Regions from separate parts of the Homo sapiens genome. Here region 1 is linked to region 2. Evidence: fine-mapped expression QTL. A gene starts in region 2. The other region holds a variant in brackets. All regions are shown on one strand. Distances are from middle to middle. Region 1 holds the start of SLC25A12 (solute carrier family 25 member 12). Region 2 holds the start of HAT1 (histone acetyltransferase 1).

Region 1 (8,686 bases), 30 kb after region 2:
TTAGCCAGGCATGGTGGCGTGCACCTGTAATCCCAGCTACTTGGGAGGCTGAGGCAGGAGAATTGCTTGAACCCAGGAGGCAGAGGTTGCAGTGAGCCAAGATGGCGCCACTGCACTCCAGCCTGGGCGATAGAGCGAGACTCCGTCTCAAAAAATTAAAAATGAAAACATACACAGGGTCGGGCGCGGTGGCTCACGCCTGTAATCCCAGCACTTTGGGAAGCCGAGGTGGGCGGATCACCAGAGGTCAGAAGTTTGAGACAAACCTGGCCAACATAGTGAAACCCTGTCTCTACTAAAAATACAAAAAATTAACTGGGCATTGCGGCGGGTGCCTGTAATCCCAGCTACTCGGGAGGCCAAGGCAAGAGAATCTCTTGAACCTGGGAGGTGGACGTTGCAGTGAGTCAAGATGGTGCCACTGCACTCCAGCCTGGGCGACAGAGCGAGACTCAGTCTCAACACACACACACACAGACACACATACACACAATACACATGTGATTGGGGTTGTGGAGAAGCATTGACCATCTGTAAGCCCCTAGAGGGTGGGGGCTATAGGTTATTTGCGTTTTTTACAAGCAGGACCATGTCAGGCATATAATGGATGCCCATACATGTTTGAATCAATATGTAGCCTAATACAGTGATATTGGCAAGACGGGTTTAGAAACATTGTTTTGGTTCAAGATAGAGTTACTGCTTCTTCTACTTCTTAGGTAGGGCTAGAAATCGAATGGAGAATTACTTTCTGTTCATGTATGGGCAAGCGATTCATTGCCAGCCCTGTCAAAGACACATAGAGTTTTTTTTCTCATTGCACACAGGATTTGGGTGATTAGGAAAGTGGAGCGAGTCTACTAATAAACCGTTGTAATAGCACGCAAAGCAAAAATAAATTCAGCGTATTCGTCCCATGCCAATTTAGGAGCATATTTCTCAAATTATGTTTACGTAGGTTTTCCCTAGAGTGAGTGGTTCCCAATCTTGTTTTGTCGGTATTTGCCATCAGTTGTCATTAATTCATTGTTATTAATGGGAAGTGCTCTTTGATCCGTCGGAACCTTGCTCAGTATAGGCCCCAAATGTTCCTTTAAGCCTCGGGGAAAACGACTTTGGCTGGTCGGTGCCCAAAGCCACACCCACTAAGAGGCCTTAGGAAACCTGGGGCTTTCCTGGCGGCGACCTAGCTGTGGCAACCACGCGGCGCGTCGGGATCCCATGGGTCGCGCTTGTTTTCCCCGTGGGAGGCGCGTCCCCCTCCTCCGCCCGGCCGGCCGGCCCTGGACCAGCTGCCTTTCTGGCCGGGACGCCGGGCCCCTTTCCGCACGCGGCGCGCCCCGAGTTCATTTGCATAGGGACGCGCGCGGCGCCGGCGAGAGGGAGGGCGGGCGCGGCCGGGAAGACGGCGCGCGCGCGCCCTGACAGCTCGGCCCTGCTCGCTCACTCGCTCGTCCCCGGCTTCCGAGCACAGCATGGCGGTCAAGGTGACTCCAACTCTCTGCTGCTGCTTTTATTGCATAAGAGACATTCCGAGCGCCCTGCCTGCAGCCCCCCACTGCTTCCCATTTTATTCATTGTCTAGGTCTTAGATAGCTTGTCCTGGGGCTCCGGCTTGCTGCGGGGAGAGCTGTGCGGGGCTTGGACCGGAGGAGGGGATGCCCGGCTGGGGGAGGGGAAGGAGGAGGGATTGTGAGTTGAAGGGGCTTGTACGGTAACACGGGTCAGTGAAGGAAGAGTAATGTCCTGTCCTAGGTGCATGGGATTGTGAGTCCGGAGTTGGAGGGCATCAGAAAGGGTGTGGGAGGAAGTGGCAAGTAAAGCTGGGGATACCTAGGGTATCAGTGAATTGCGGTGGGGGAGGGAGTAAGTATTGAGTAATTTGGGGCCTCAATAAGGCCGAGGGCAGTGGTTGGCTTTTGCGTTGCAGATTGCAGGGTATGGAAAGTATTTGTATTTGTGGCAGCTCTCATATTTTAGGTTGGATGGGGAGAGGGACGCGGAGATAATTACATGTTGGGTTTGCTTTTTATGGAGAAAGGCTGCTAGGCCAAGTGATTAATTTGGGTGATTTAACTTTCCTGTTGATCTACTCTTGTTAGCTTCTTGATTTGAAGGTGGGTGGTTACTACTGTGTTGCTAGTAGATGTGGAATAAAGTAAAAGATCCTCATTGCCTTCCCTTTCCAGTCCAGAGGAAGCACTGTCCGATAGCTTTGCTGTATCTTAGGCTATTCGCACCTGTTTTTCTGCCCTCTAGTCACAGTTATCCAGTTTGACAGTTCTTATCAGCAATTAGGGCTTTTAGTTTGTTTTAAACTAAATGATAAAAGATAGGAGCATTGATTGTTAGCCATGTGACCTCTAATCTGAAGAGATTGTGTGGTCTCTAGTGAAGCATTAACTGGCTTTTTTTTCTTTTTTGCTTACAGGTGCAGACAACTAAGCGAGGGGATCCTCATGAGTTAAGAAACATATTTCTACAGGTAAATTGGCTTGCATAGTGTGCCTTTCATTGCAAAAACAAAAAACGTACATGTCCTTAGTCCTATTCATGCCTTAACTTTGAGGAATGTTCAGTTTTCATGTATTCTTTCAAACATGACCGGACAATATAGCTTATACTTCTCTTAATAAGGTTTGATTTAAGGCCTTCTTTTAATTAAGGGTCGATAAAAGGTTTTCCTCAAGTTACTGCTTTTTTTTTTACATGACTTAAGATATATATTTTGAAAAAAAATTTCCAGCTTAAGCACAGAGACCAAGATAAAATTTCAAAATGTATTGGCATTCTTGTATAGTTAATAGGTATGATGACTAAAATTCTCTTCCTTGAAAGTTGCATGTTTACAAAGTTTTCCTACTTATGAGCTATCCTCCATGTAATTTGTTACAGAGATAAGAATATTATAGCTATTCTTAATTTGTGTGTCTTACTTACATTGTATCCTTAAGCCTTGGGGATTTTACCCCAAAATGTTACCTCTTAAGATTCTTGCAATGGTCTACCTTAACTTCTAAGCTTTTAGAATCAGTGACTTGGCTGTAGACTTAAAAAGAAAAGAAAAAAGAAAAAAAAAAGGTTGGCTTAGTTTTTTGTTTTGCTTTCTTTTCTTAAATTTCAAAAGTTTCCTATGCAGGAAATTGTACTTAAGAAGTAGATGTAGGCCGGGCGCGGTGGCTCACGCCTGTAATTCCAGTATTTTGGGAGGCCGAGGCGGGTGGACCATGAGGTCAGGAGATCGAGACCATCCTGGCTAACACGGTGAAACCCCGTCTCTACTAAAAATACAAAAAATTAGCCGGGCGTGGTGGTGGGCGCCTGTAGTCCCAGCTACTCGGGAGGCTGAGGCAGGAGAATGGCGTTAACCCGGGAAGCGGAGCTTGCAGTGAGTCGAGATCGTGCCACTGCACTCCAGCCTGGGGACAGAGAGACACTGTCTCAAAAAAAAAAAAAAGTAGATGTAAAGGGAGGCAAGCTAAGGTGTTTCACCAAATATTGCATTTCTCTCTGAAATCTTTTGAGAACTTTCTATTCTGGACCTGGGTTCTTATGAAGACACTTTGACCTTGGGCAGGTCCCTGCTGTGTATTATTTTCCTCTGTGAAATGAGAGGTGATCTCCAAGGTTCCTTCCCATTCCAAAAGTCTATGAGTCTATTTTAGGAACAGATTCTAACATATGCTGATGAGCCTGGAATAGATGACATTTTTATTTGAGATATGTGGTTTGCTTAAGCTATTGTTGGGTAAGACGCTGCGTAGTTGAGCATACATATGTGTAGTTTATGAAAAATAATTTGTGAAAATGGGAATCTTAAAGGTCATAATATCTGATAAGGGAAGTATTTTTTTCCAGAACAGAAGTAATTATAATAACAGAAATGGTCCATTTATGACTTGAAACCTTTATTCCTTGCAGGCATTCTTGAAAATAGCCAAAAATATATCGGTATTCACCATACCATGTGATTATAGTCAATTGTTTTGTGAAGAGTTCATGTGATATAGTTAATTTTATGTTCTAGACTAAGTAGATGCGGAAGAAATGAGTTGAAATGCTGCATGATGTAGTGAAAAGAATACTGCCTAGGTATCTGAGTACTGCCTAGGAATACGGAGTTAATTCCCAGCCCTGCATTTATCTGGTTCTTGTACCCTTAGGCTAATCATCTGGCCTTCCTGAGTTTCAGCTTCTCATGTGGGACTCAGTGGGACATAAAGGAATGGGAATTGAGGTCTTTCTAGCTTTAAAAATTCTATGGGAAAAAAATATACTGTGATTCTGTATGGATTTGTTTTTTGTTTTTGAGTGGGGGTAGAGGTGGGTTGGAGGTATGAGGAGAATGGCGAGGACTGTCCCTAGCTCTTTGACAACTTTTTTTTTTTTTTGAGATGGAGTCTCGCTCTGTCGCCCAGGCTGGAATGCACTGGCGTGATCTTGGCTCACTGCAACTTCTGCCTCCGGGGTTCAAGCAATTCTCTTGCCTCCGAGTAGCTGGGATTACAGGCATGTGCCACCACACCCGGCTAATTTTTTGTATTTTTAGTAGAGACAGGGTTTCACCATGTTAGCCAGGATGGTCTTGATCTCCTGACCTCGTGATCTGTGTGCCTCAGCCTCCCAAAGTGCTGGGATTACAGGCGTGAGCCACCATGCCTGGCCGATTCTTTGACAACTTTTAAATCTTAGCTTTTCATTTACTGTTTTGCATATCGTCATTATCTTTTTACACATTATTTTGATGATGCCTTTATTTTTATGTTGAAAATTTGTGGAATTCATAACTGCTTATTTAGCACTAAGTATGAAACATTGACACAAGCATTATTGATAGATAAGAGAGTGATAGAATGTAAATACTCACCTTCAGAAAGGCCTAACGCAGCAAGAAAGATAACAATATAGGCTGAGTGCAGTAGCTCACACCTGTAATCTCAGCACTTTGGGAGGCTGAGGCTAGAGGATCACTTGAGCCCAGGAGTTCAAGACCAACCTGAGCAATATAGTGAGACCTCGTCTCTGCAAAAAATTTTAAAAATTAGCCACACCTGGTGGCATCCATCTGTGGTCCCAGCTACTCAGGTGGCTGAGGTAGGAGGATTGCTTGATCCTAGGAGGCAGAGGTTGCAGTAAGCCAAGATCATACCACTGCACTCCAGCCTGGCAACAGAGCAAGACCTTGTTACACACACACACACACACACACA[CAG/G]ACACACACGATACAGTATTGCTAGTTGGATCAATTTGAGGATAGTTACCAAGTAAAAGATTTTTATTCCTGGCTTGAATACTTCAAACTATAGTTATTTGAAGCTTTGCAGTACTGTTTAGAAACAGTTTTATGAAACAGTTTTATAGATGCATATAGTTGATTAATATTTTAGCTATAATAGAAGACAAAAATACATGCTAACCGTGTATTTCTTTAGCACTTAACATATTTACCCAACAAATATTTACAAAGGATTATTTGCTGTGTACCATGCACTTTTATTCAATACAATACTGTTCAGTAGCAGACACCAAGTCGAATATCAAGAGAGACAACAGAGCCAAGACCTAAATGCTGATGGACATGTGATTGGACTAGCTGCTCTCTCAGGCCCATGCCATCTCTCATGGTTTGTGGTTGAGGGAATCAAGAATAGTGAAGGCAAATGCATAGCCTGTGGTAGAGCAATCAGATTGGCTTCTTACATCATAGTGGCTGTGTAATAATATTGACAATGGCTAACATTTATTGATCATTTAGAGTGTGCTTGAGATTGGCCTAGTGCTTTAAGGATATTAATGTTAGTTTTCATAACAACTTTATGAAGCAGGTTTAATATCCTTGTTACATAGATGAGGTTAAATTAATGTCAGACTATGTGGTAGAGCCAGATTCAAATCAAATTCCAGAGCCCATACCCTTAACCCTTACATAATACTACTGGTAGGATATTGAAATGGGGTGACTTTTGAAAGACAGAGGTATATCAGGGGATAATGGCAGAGTGTTAAGAAGTTAAAAAAAAATCTGGTTACTTAGGTGATGAAATTTAAAAAGTTTCTTTACACTGTAACTGTCTAGAATAGTTAGCCAAGGAATTTGGATTTGAAACAGTAGGGAGCCACTGTGGGTTTCTGAGTAGGCAAATTGAAGTGGTGAATTCTGGCAGCTTTTTGTGTATGTTGGATAAAGTATGAAGAGATTGGAAGTAGCTTAGGTGATAAGCTGAGAGGCTACTGAAGTAATACTTTTGAGAATTAATGACCTAGAGTGGTTGATGGCTGGGGAAATGAAAAGCAAGGACAATACCAGCGATGTAAGGGAAGAATCTATCGAATTTGGTATTAAATATGGAAGTAAGGGAAGAAGTAGAAGTGAACCTGTCAGTTTTAGGATAGGTGTTAATTGATAAGGCATCTATTTAGATAATATTTTTTGGGGGGATGGGGTTAGTTTGGTTGCTAAACAAATGTATCTCACTAAGTTAAAGTTGGATTTGGACAGATACAAATTTGTGCAGGTGGTAGATGAATTCCTTGTATATAAAGCAAGGCAGAGGATCAGGGGCTGATTTATAAGTGATATCTCCAATTGAAGTAGGAAGGAGGAGGAGGGGAAATAGGGAGAATGGTCCCATGAAAGTTTAAAGTAGGAGTTTCACAAGAAGGATATAATTAAAGGTTAAAATGTAGATTATTCTGTTATTAGTATGATTTAGTTTGGGGAGGATTTTGGGGTCACTTGAGTTTAGAATTATCTGAGCTACTTAAAGACTATAAAGAGATATAATTTTAAATTTTAGAGTACAGTTGAAAACTCTTTGTAAAATGTAGATCTGTGGCATTAACTGTTTAAGTTCACAAATAGTCAATAAAAATTCCTACTTTCAAATAAGAATATTTTGTTAAACTTTTGAGCCATGGGTCAAAAGTCATTTGTAAAACAATAAAATGGCCGGGTGTGGTGGCTCACACCTGTAATCCCAGCAATTTGGGAGGCTGAGGCGGGTGGATCACTTGAGGTCAGGAGTTTGAGACCAGCCTGGGCAACATGGTGAAACCCTGTCTCTATAAAAAATATAAAAAATTAGCCAGATGTGGTAGCGCACGCCTGTAATCTCAGCTACTAGGGAAGCTGAGGCAGGAGAATCGCTTGAACCCGGGAAGCGGGGGTTGCAGTGAGCCGAGATTGTGCCACTGCACTTCAGCCTGGGCGACAGAGCGAGACTCACTGTCTCAAAAAAAATAATAATTAAAAAAATATATATATATTTTTATTTGAAAGTACTGGTATATCAGCTGGGTGCGGCAGCTCATACCTGTAATCCCAGTGCTTTGCGAGGCTGAGGTGGGAGGATCACTTGAGGCCAGGAGTTCAAGACCAGCCTGGGCAACAAAGCGAGATTCCATGGCTACAAATATATGTATATAGATTTAGCTGGGTGCGGTGGTACATGCCTGTGGTCCTAGCTGCTCTGGAAGCTGAGATGGGAGGATCACTTGAGCCCAGAAGTTCGAGGTTACAATGAGTTATCATTATACCACTGCACTCCAGCATGGGTGACAGAACAAGACTTTGTCTCCAAAAAAAAAAAAAAAAAGGAAAAAAGAAAAGAAAGTGGCAACTGACTTATTTATGTATCTATGTTTAGTGAAATTGTATGAGAATTGGTGTGGGAGTTCATAAGAAGGGCTTTATAAGAGTAAAGCATTATTATTTTGAATATAGGGAAATAGGTTCATTTTTCCTGTGGTGTTCATTGCTTCTCAAGTTTTGATGAGCTATGTTTCTATTAGTTAAAAAACATCAACAACAACAGTATGCACTAAGATTCTGCCTTTTTCTGCCCACCTCCACTCTGCCAAGTTCATGAAATTGGAGTACAACAAATGAATTCTTATGTGTTAGGCTGTGCTGTAATTTTACAACTGGTTTAAGCTAAGATTTTACCATTACCACCCTTACAACTGTCATTTCTTGATTTATCCCTTTTTTCTTTTAACCTCTCTCACCCACACACTGTCATTGATTCAATTTAGCTACATCAGCAGTGTACAGTAGCAAAAGGAGACAATAGAAGCAGTGAAGAAGAAGGTGAGGTGGGACAGCAGGAACATAAGTCTGACAAATTTCTAAATGAAGAGTTAATTTTGTCTGTCCCTTGTGGCAAAGTAGATTTATCAAAAACATTTAAATGAATTATTTTTTAATCTCTCTCTCTTTTTAGTTAATAGGCTTCTTTTGTTTGCTGGTGTGTTGTATAGTAAAGGCAATATATGTTAAGACTGCAACTATATTTGCCAGATCAAAAATTTACTGAAATGTAGACCTCAAATATTATTTTAATTTTGTTCTTTTTTCATTATCACCAATGTAACAATGAAGATCGTATCCCATACAAAATTATGAAAATGTGCTTTTTTCCTGTCTTATTTTAGGTTAGAGAATAAAGAGGAGAAGATACTGTTAATGTAAAGCAAAGGGCGATTCCTCCTTAGGGTTTTTACAATAACATTTATTTTTAATAGAAAGATATGTTCTTTTATTCAAATAGTTTATGTATTTTATTTACTTATTTTTGACAGTAGCCTGGAGCTGAGAAGGGAATAAAGCAGGGCTTTTAGCAGGAGACCCTTACTCTTTGTTGAAATATACATTAGGGCTGTGTTTCCAAAAGTGTGGAAGGTATAC
Region 2 (8,686 bases):
AGACCTTCCTTGTCTCTTTAAAAAAGAAAGAAAGAAAAAAAAGGGGTGAGGGGAGGAAATGAAAGAAGAGAAGGAAGGAAAGAAAATAAAAAAGACAGAAAAGAAAATTGCCAAACTGTTTTCCAAAATAGTTATATCACTTTACATTCCCACCAGCAATATACAAGTGTTTTTTTCCACATCCTCACCAATATTTGCTATTGTTTATTATTCTTACAGGCAAAAAAGTAAAAAATATTTTTAAGAGGCTAAAACTATATATACTTATTACTTTTTGCCCCACCGTCTTTCCTTTTTATATAAAATTCTGTCACCTTTCAAACATCTACACCTTCCATGACATAAATCAAAACTGAATAAAATCTGAATATGTTCAATAAATGCAGAAAACCATACATTTGCATAAATAACTGCTCTTACATAAAATTTTACTTCAAATTTAAAATGAAAGATTATATATACACACACAGTATGTACATAACATCACTTAGAAATGGCATACATACCTAATTTTAGTTCAATTGCTGTGTTGGTGTTACATTTGTACTCTGCCAGTTTCTTCTCCACTGCACTCTTATATTCTACCAAAAATTTCTCCATAGCACCAAATCCTAAGAGAAAAGGTTTTTAAAAGGTTTAGTTTGGAAGTGACTTAAATTGTCAAACCTGCAATAGGGTTATTATAAGTGGAATAGGGGTATGATTTAAAACATGCTGATAGATCATAAAAGCACAAGTCATTCTCCACATACTCTTAAATAAATGTATTAAGAATGCCAGCTGGGCACGGTGGCTCACGCCTGTAATCCCAGCACTCTGGGAGGCTGAGGTGGGTGGATCACAAGGTCAGGAGTTCGAGGTCAGCCTCGCCAAGATGGTGAAACCCGTCTCTACTAAAAATACAAAAATTAGCCGGGCACGGTGACGGGCGCCTGTAATCCCAGCTACTTGGGAGGCTGAGGCAGGAGAATCTCTTGAACCCAGGAGGCAGAGGGTGCAGTGAGCCGAGATCATGCCACTGCCCTCTAGCCTGGGCGACAGAGCAAGACTCCATCTCAAAAAAAAAAAAAAAAAAAAAGAATGCCTCATTACAAAACAGAAAAAGAAATCACTTTTGAGATACAGGCTTATAAACTAGGAATACTTAATATAAATGAATAAACCTGAAAATTAACATGATAGATTACTAACATTTCTGAACATGTACTAATACAAATTACCTGCTAGGATTTATACCTAAGTCGTCTTTTTCATTATAAGATGTAAAAAGCAAAATGAGAATGTCCTCTGATAATTATGACAGAATTTCATTTTAAGTATTGGAAAAAGTCTACCAGAGTGCTTCAGATAAGGAAATGATAATGCATGGAATGTCTCAAGAAGAATACACAAATATCTGGTAACCATAGTTACCATGGGTAAAGAAAGAAGGAAGAGGAACAGGGGCACAAAGAAAACATCTTTCCACTGTATTAAATATTTAAAAATCATGTATGCCTAAAGTCATAAACTGTGAGCTACTGGCACAATAGTTTTACTACATAGTGGCTACTCAATAATATACATAATAAATAACATTGGAAGATATCACTATCAAGAGAAACTTTCAAGATAACAAATCTCCTGACAAAATGGGCATATGATTAGTAAAAATGGGCTGGGCGCGGTGGCTCACGCCTGTAATTTCAGCACTTTGGGAGGCCGAGGCAGGGGGATCGCGAGGTCGAGACGGATATCATCCTGGCCAACATGGTGAAACCCCATCTCCACTAAAAATACAAAAATTAGCTGGACGTGGTGGCGCGTGACTGTAGTCCTAGCTACTCCGGAGGCTGAGGCAGAATTGCTTGAATCCAGAAGGCAAAGGTTGCCGAGATCGCGCCACTGCACTCCAGCCTGGTGACAGAGCGAGACTCAGTCTCCAAAAAAAAAAAAAATCAGTAAAAATTCAGACAGAAAAAAGCCATAAGCAAAAAATAAAAAGGGGTACAATGATGTGCTATAAACTTCAAAAAGGGGTTAAAACACACACACAGAAAATGGGAAAGACTTGAAGCAGTACAGATTAATAGTCTGGAGTGAGAATTCCTGGATTCTGACTATTTCACACACTTACTGAGCTAGTAAGCTCAGGGAACTAGAGCACATTACTTAACCCCTCTGACCCTAATCTACAGAACCGAGATTACAGAATTTACTTCGAGGAATGTAAGCAACAAAATTTAACCTGTGAAATCATATATTAGCTCAATCTGCACAATTCTATAAGTAGGTATTACATCAACCCCATTTTACATTCAAAAGTTCAGGCTTAGAAAGAGGTTTAGTTGAAGGGCATCCAACTACTAAATGATGGGCCCAAAATTCGAATTTAGATGTAATTCTTAGAGTACGTCCTCCCTCTTCTGTGGTACTTCAAGATCCTACAATCTCCATCTGGTAGAAAAGTCCTTCTTTAAACATCTGTAGAGCTCACACAACAGCTTGTCTATCCCACATATTCATAAAAATGGAATGGTTAATGTAGAGAGACTATGAGGAATGCCCTGTAAAGAGATGATAAAAGCAACAAAGGCCAGCGAAGTGGCTCAATCCTGTCATTCCAACACTTTGGGAAGCTGAGGCGAGAGGATGGCTTGAGGCCAAGAGTTCCAGACCGGCCTGAGGCAATACAGCCAGACTCTGTCTCTAAAAGGTTAAAAAAAATTGTTTTTTTTTAGCCGAATGTTGTGGCGCATGCCTGTAGTCCTAGCTACTCGGGAGGCTGAGGCAAGAGGATCGCTTGAGCCTACGAGGAGTTGGAAGCTGCCCGGAACTATGATCGCTGCACTCCAGCCTGGGCGACAGAGAGACCCTGTCTCAGGAAAAAGAAACTGTCCATAACTTCAAAAGATAAGTAATCGAAAAAAATAATCACACCAAAACAGCCTTAATACACGTACAAAGTAATAGCAATTATACATTATTAAATGTTGTAACTTGAAGGGTCTCTAGAATGTACACAAGAGAATTGTATTATAGTAGTCCAACCCTAAAAGAGAAGGGAGCAGTTCAGGAACAAAGTCTTTCTCAAAGGGCATCTAAATACGATCCTCGGAATACTAAAGTGTGACAGATTAACGAGACGACTACGAAGTCAGTCGAGATCCAAGTGGGAGCGCCAGAGCAGGGCAAGGCAGCAATGCGCTAGCTCAGAAGTTGACTGTAGTGGAAGGTAGACGGAGACCTGGAAGAGGAGGAGGATCTGAGCATTAAAATCAGCTGGCGGGAACAGGACCAGATGTACAAGAGCTGAAGCAAGCAGCAGTGGACAAAAGGAATGGGAAGAGAAACAGGCCCCAAGGCATGTGGCATTTTACGAGCCCAAATCATGACGCTTTTCCCTGGCGTCTTCGGCCCTCGGTAGGGGCCGGATTGCTGGCAGAAGGCGCAGAACCCCAAGCAGTTGGGGGCGGGGGCGCGGACCGCCGCCAACAAGGAGCTGCTGGGCTGAGAGTTCCGCGCTTCCGGTCCCAAGCAGGCCTTCTGGAACCCAGGCTACAGCCCGAAAGTTCTAGGCGGGCATTGTCACCACCGTCTCGGCGTTCTATCCCCGATCTGGCCGCCTCCTCCCCTTGGTAAACTTTTCCCGGTAACTTACCCGCCATTTCCGAGCTACGATCACCCGCGGCTGAGGAAGGACGAATCAACCCGCGCGCTCCCGGGCCGGAAGTGACCGCACAGTCTGACATATTTTCCCCGCCCACTCCCAGCGTGACGTTAGCCAATTAAAGGAGGCGTGTCCAGGAGCCCGGCGGCGGAAGCGCCTCAAGAGGCGGGGCTAACGCCGAGAAGTCTGCGCGGGCCGTTGCCTAGCCACTGCGAATGCCGTCAGCCGCTTTGCAGGCCTGAAGTGGAGAAGGAGGCCGCAAACGGACTTTCGCGGTTGAGATGCTCTCTGGCCCTAGGAAAGTTTCTCTGGGGTTGATTTGATCAATACAGACACTTTACGCCTGTTTTCCATACCCGTCCCTGAGATGTTTTGGAGACTGGCTGAAAATCTTTCCTCTTGGCCTGGACAGTGCATCCAAACACCTGAGCCCTGTGGGCAATTTTACCATTTTACCTAGGTAAAATGTAGAGGTTGAGTTTCAGTTGCGGGAGAAGCTTTCACTTGTTTTCCTCATTTGTTTCTCATTTTGCTGTAAACTTTAACACCTTTTTTCCTTTCTCCCCTGTTTTTAACGTATACAGTATGATATTTAGGTACTCTGCTTTCACTCTGCAGGTTACTAAGAACCGTTTAGCGCGCAAAAATCGTTACCTAGGCCGGGCGCGGTGGCTCACGCCTATAATCCCAGCACTTTGGGAGGCCGAGGCGGGTAGATTGCCTGAGCTCAGGAGTTCGAGACCAGTGTAGCCAACATAGTGAAACCCCGTCTCTACTAAAAATACAAAAATTAGCCAGGCATGGTGGCAGGCGCCTGTAATCCCAGCTACTCGGGAGGCTGAGGCAGGAGAATCGCTTGAACCCTGGAGGCGAAAGTTGCAGTGAGCCGAGATTGCGCCACTACACTCCAGCCTGGGCAACAGAGTGAGACTCCGTCTCAAAAAAAAAAAAAAATTGTTACCTAATAAATACCTCAAGTAGCCTGATGTAGTCTTGCATGCCACATGTCCTAGTGGTTTGAATTACATCACAAGGTGCTACCTGATTTTAGCCATAGGCCTTGTTAGTATTTAGTAGCTGTAGGAACTGCTTTCCCCAGAGGATAAACCACTATTTAGGTATCCACAAATATTCCCACAATGTTGGCTATACACCAGAATTCCTTATCTCAACAAATATTTGTTAACAGGTTTTACAGTGATGCACGCTAAAGCTAAAATGGACCCTTGGGATGATGGTCTAGAACTAACACGCCCTCTCATTTTAGAGATGAGGAAACCAAAGCCCAGAAAAGATAAACTGCCCAAGTTCATTCTCAGTATGCAACCTATGCAGAGTGCAGTTCATCAGATACTCAGCCCAGTATTTATTTGCTCAACTATATAGAGATGGCTTTCCTGAAGATAAAGATCAGAAAAGGTACTGAGAATGCCCAGATCCTTTTTCTTTCTTTTTTTTTTTTTTTTTTTTAGACGGAGTTTCACTCTTGTTGCCCAGGCTGGAGTGCAATGGCACAATCTCAGCTCACCACAGCCTCCGCCTCCCGGGTTCAAGCGATTCTTCTGCCTCAGCCTCCTGAGTCGCTGGGATTACAGGCATGCGCCACCACACCCAGCAATTTTGTATTTTTGTAGAGACGGGGTTTCTCCATGTTGGTTAGGCTGATCTCGAACTCCCAACCTCAGATGATCTGCCCATCTCGGCCTCCAAAAGTGCTGGGATTACAGTCGTGATCCCAAGAAAAGGTTTCAAGATCCTTTTTCTTGAAACCTAATGATACACAAGAAATTACAGTCATAGGCCGGGCGTGGTGGCTCACGCCTGTAATCCCAGCACTTTGTGATGCCGAGGCGGGCGGATCACGAGATCAGGAGATCCAGACCATCCTGACTAACATGGTGAAACCCTGTCTCTACTAAAAATACAAAAAAAGTAGCCGGGCGTGGTAGCGGGTGCCTGCAGTCCCAGCTACTCAGGAGGCTGAGGCAGGAGAATGGCGTGAACCTGGAAGGCGGAGCTTGCAGTGAGCCGAGATCCCGCCACTGCACTCCAGCCTGGGCAAGAGCGAGACCCCGTCTCAAAAAAAAAAAAAGAAATTACAGTCATAATGTTAAGACAGAAAACTGAAATCAATGAGACTAATGACATTATGGATCAAAAAAGGAAAACAATCTTTTTCTTTAATAATCATTTTTGGCTAGGCACGGTGGCTCACACCTGTAATCCCAGCACTTGGGAGGCCAAGGCAGGCAGATCACCTGAGGTCAGGAGTTTGAGACCAGCCTGGCCAACATGGTAAAACCCTGTCTCTACTAAAAAGTACAATAAATTAACCAGGCGTGGTGACATGAGCCTGTAATCTCAACTACTTGGGAGGCTGAGGCAGTAGAATCGCTTGAACCCAGGAGGCGGAGGTTGCAGTGAGCTGAGATAGTGCCACTGCACTCCAGCCTGCTCAAGAGAGCGAGACTCCATCTCAAAAAAAAAAAAAAACTTTTCTTTTCAAAATGGCAAGACTTATCATTTCTTTCCAAAATCACCTTATCTATGGATCAATTGCTGACCAGCAATTATGATCTTTATAAGTAAGAAATCAAGAAGAATTACGTTTTAACTGTGGTATATCACAGATTATTAGTCCTGTGATATTATGGTTAGTTGTAGGAAAAAAATATGATGAAACTTACTGATATATTGTATGACTAGCATTTAATGTGATTTGCTTGCAGAATTGAGGTTTTATATTGTCCTCGTCTTAGATGTTCACTTTTTTTTTTTTTTTTTTTTTTGAGACAGGGTCTCACTCTCACCCAGGCTGGATTGCAATGATGCAATCATAGCTCACTACAGCCTCCAGCCTCCAACTGCTGGGCTCAAAAGATCCTCCTGCCTCTCAGCCTCCCAAATAGCCAGGACTACAAATGTGTGCCATTGTGCACAGCTAATTTTTTTGTTTTTTGTAGAAATGGAGTCTCAGTATGTTGCCCAGGCTGGTCCCAAACTCCTGGCCTCAAGCAATCCTCTCAGCTTGGCCTCCCGGAATGCTAGGATAATAGGTGTGAGCCACCATGTCCATCCTCACATTTTTTTTTTTTAATGTTACAGAATAGATGTTTTGGTACAGTTTACCTAAAAGATAAAAGAATGACTTATTTTGGAAAGGTAATGTGAAAATTACCCAAAAGGAAAAAAATTCTCTTTTTTTTTGTAGGGATTTCTTTCCTTTTTTAACTTATATTTTACTTTGTTCTAAAGAGAATTTAAGAAAGCAACTATTACAATCATGGAATAAAATTTCTATGAAAGGAATATGCTATCCTCATATATATATGGAAGAGACAACATATCTTGTGGGAAGTTTACTGCCCTACTAGTCCCAGTTCTACTACTTCATGCTTGTTCAACCTTGTTGCATCTATTAAGTGGAGATAATAGTACTGCCCAGTCACCACACTGGGTTGCTGTAAAAACTAAACGGAATAATATTTGTGAACGACCTTTGTAAACTCTAAAACTCTATGCAGGTATGAAGTGGTATTACTATGATAACATTTATTCTAGTAAGGGAGATTTGGAAAAGGCATTTTCTTCAGAGAAAAGGGCCATATTACACTATTAGGTATGAACTGGCAACCATGTGTTGGTACAGGCTCAAGTTCATATGGACTGATAAACTTCACTATCTTGCTTTGAAACCTCCAGAATGGATTAAAATTTGGCACAAAAAAATATGGTCATCGGGCCGGGCGCAGTGGCTCATGCCTGTAATCCCAGCACTTTGGGAGGCCGAGGCAGGCAGATCACGAGGTTAGGAGATCGACAGCATCCTGGCTAACACGGTGAAACCCCGTCTCTACTAAAAACACAAAAAATTAGCCAGGCGTGGTGGCGGGCGCCTGTAGTCCCAGCTACTTGGGAGGCTGAGGCAGGAGAATGGCATGCACCCAGGAGGCGGAGCTTGCAGTGAGCCGAGATCATGCCACTGTACTCCAGCCTGGGAGACAGACTCCGTCTCAAAATATATATATATATATATGGTCATCAGAAAATTGATGCAGGAAATCAATTTTAAGAAAAATGCATGTATGTAATGTGTCTTCATTTCAAAATGCATACCTTTACACAGACAAATAACAGTAGTTAGTTAGCTCATTTTTTTAGCTCGTAGTGCTAATGAGCATAAAGTTATGAGTCTCAGTTCCCAGAGCAATTATCCAGAAACCATTATCCAGCTAGATGACTTCCAAATGGGATACAAGAAAGAAAATAGGCTGGGCGCGGTGGCTCACGTCTGTGATCCCAGCACTTTGGGAGGCCGAGGCAGGCAAATCACATGAAGTCAGGAGTTCGAGACCAGCCTGGCCAACATGGTGAAACTCCATCTCTACTGAAAATACAAAAATTAACCGGGTGTGGTGGCATACACCCGTAATTCCAGCTACTCAGGAGGCTGAGGCAGGAGAATTGCTTGAGCCCGGGAGACGGAGGTTGCAGTGAGCCGAGATCCCGCCATTGCACTCCAGCCTGGGCGACAGAGCGAGTCTGTCTCAAGAAAAAAAAAAAAAGGAAAGAAAGAAAATAAAAATGGACCGGCTCATGTTGAAAACTACTGTAAGAGGACCCCTATCCTAAATACACAAAAATTACCAACAGTCTTTATTTTCCAACTCTAATGTACTACCCATACGTGTATAAATTAGTAACTTTTGAGGGGCAATTTAGAAATTTTAACACATTTTTACAAATGTAACAAAATTTTCAATTTGTGTATCCTTTGAGGCAACAACAGTTCCACTTTTAAGCATTTGTACTGCAAAACTATTTCACAGAAATGCAAAGATACACTAAAACAAAGATGTTCAATGCTGTATTATTTTCACTGGCAAGTTGAAAATAGCCTAAACTACTAGCACAAGGGGCTGGCTAATATGTTCTATCTCCTATACAATAGGCTAAAAAATAAATTACAAAAAATATAATGTTATTTCATTTATATAAAAATATATTTTGATATAAACAGAAAACATCTGAAAGCAT

What was found.
Region 1: its variant is fine-mapped to the expression of HAT1 in whole blood (INTERVAL, PIP above 0.99).

What each region holds. Positions count from the first base shown.
Region 1 is chr2:171,887,004-171,895,689 of GRCh38, reverse strand. It overlaps SLC25A12 (solute carrier family 25 member 12), which reads left to right and starts at 1,446. Exons shown (of 18, transcript NM_003705.5): 1 at 1,446-1,487; 2 at 2,432-2,485. The coding sequence starts at 1,476. RefSeq lists enhancers at 667-1,233, 1,234-1,800 and a silencer at 1,204-1,523. The variant CAG/G (reference allele first, on the strand shown) is at 5,211.
Region 2 is chr2:171,917,462-171,926,147 of GRCh38, reverse strand. It overlaps HAT1 (histone acetyltransferase 1), which reads right to left and starts at 3,687. Exons shown (of 11, transcript NM_003642.4): 1 at 3,641-3,687; 2 at 507-611. The coding sequence starts at 3,647. It overlaps LOC105373740 (a long non-coding RNA gene), which reads left to right and starts at 3,759. Exons shown (of 3, transcript XR_923579.2): 1 at 3,759-4,109; 2 at 4,917-5,068. RefSeq lists enhancers at 3,413-3,462, 3,603-4,251.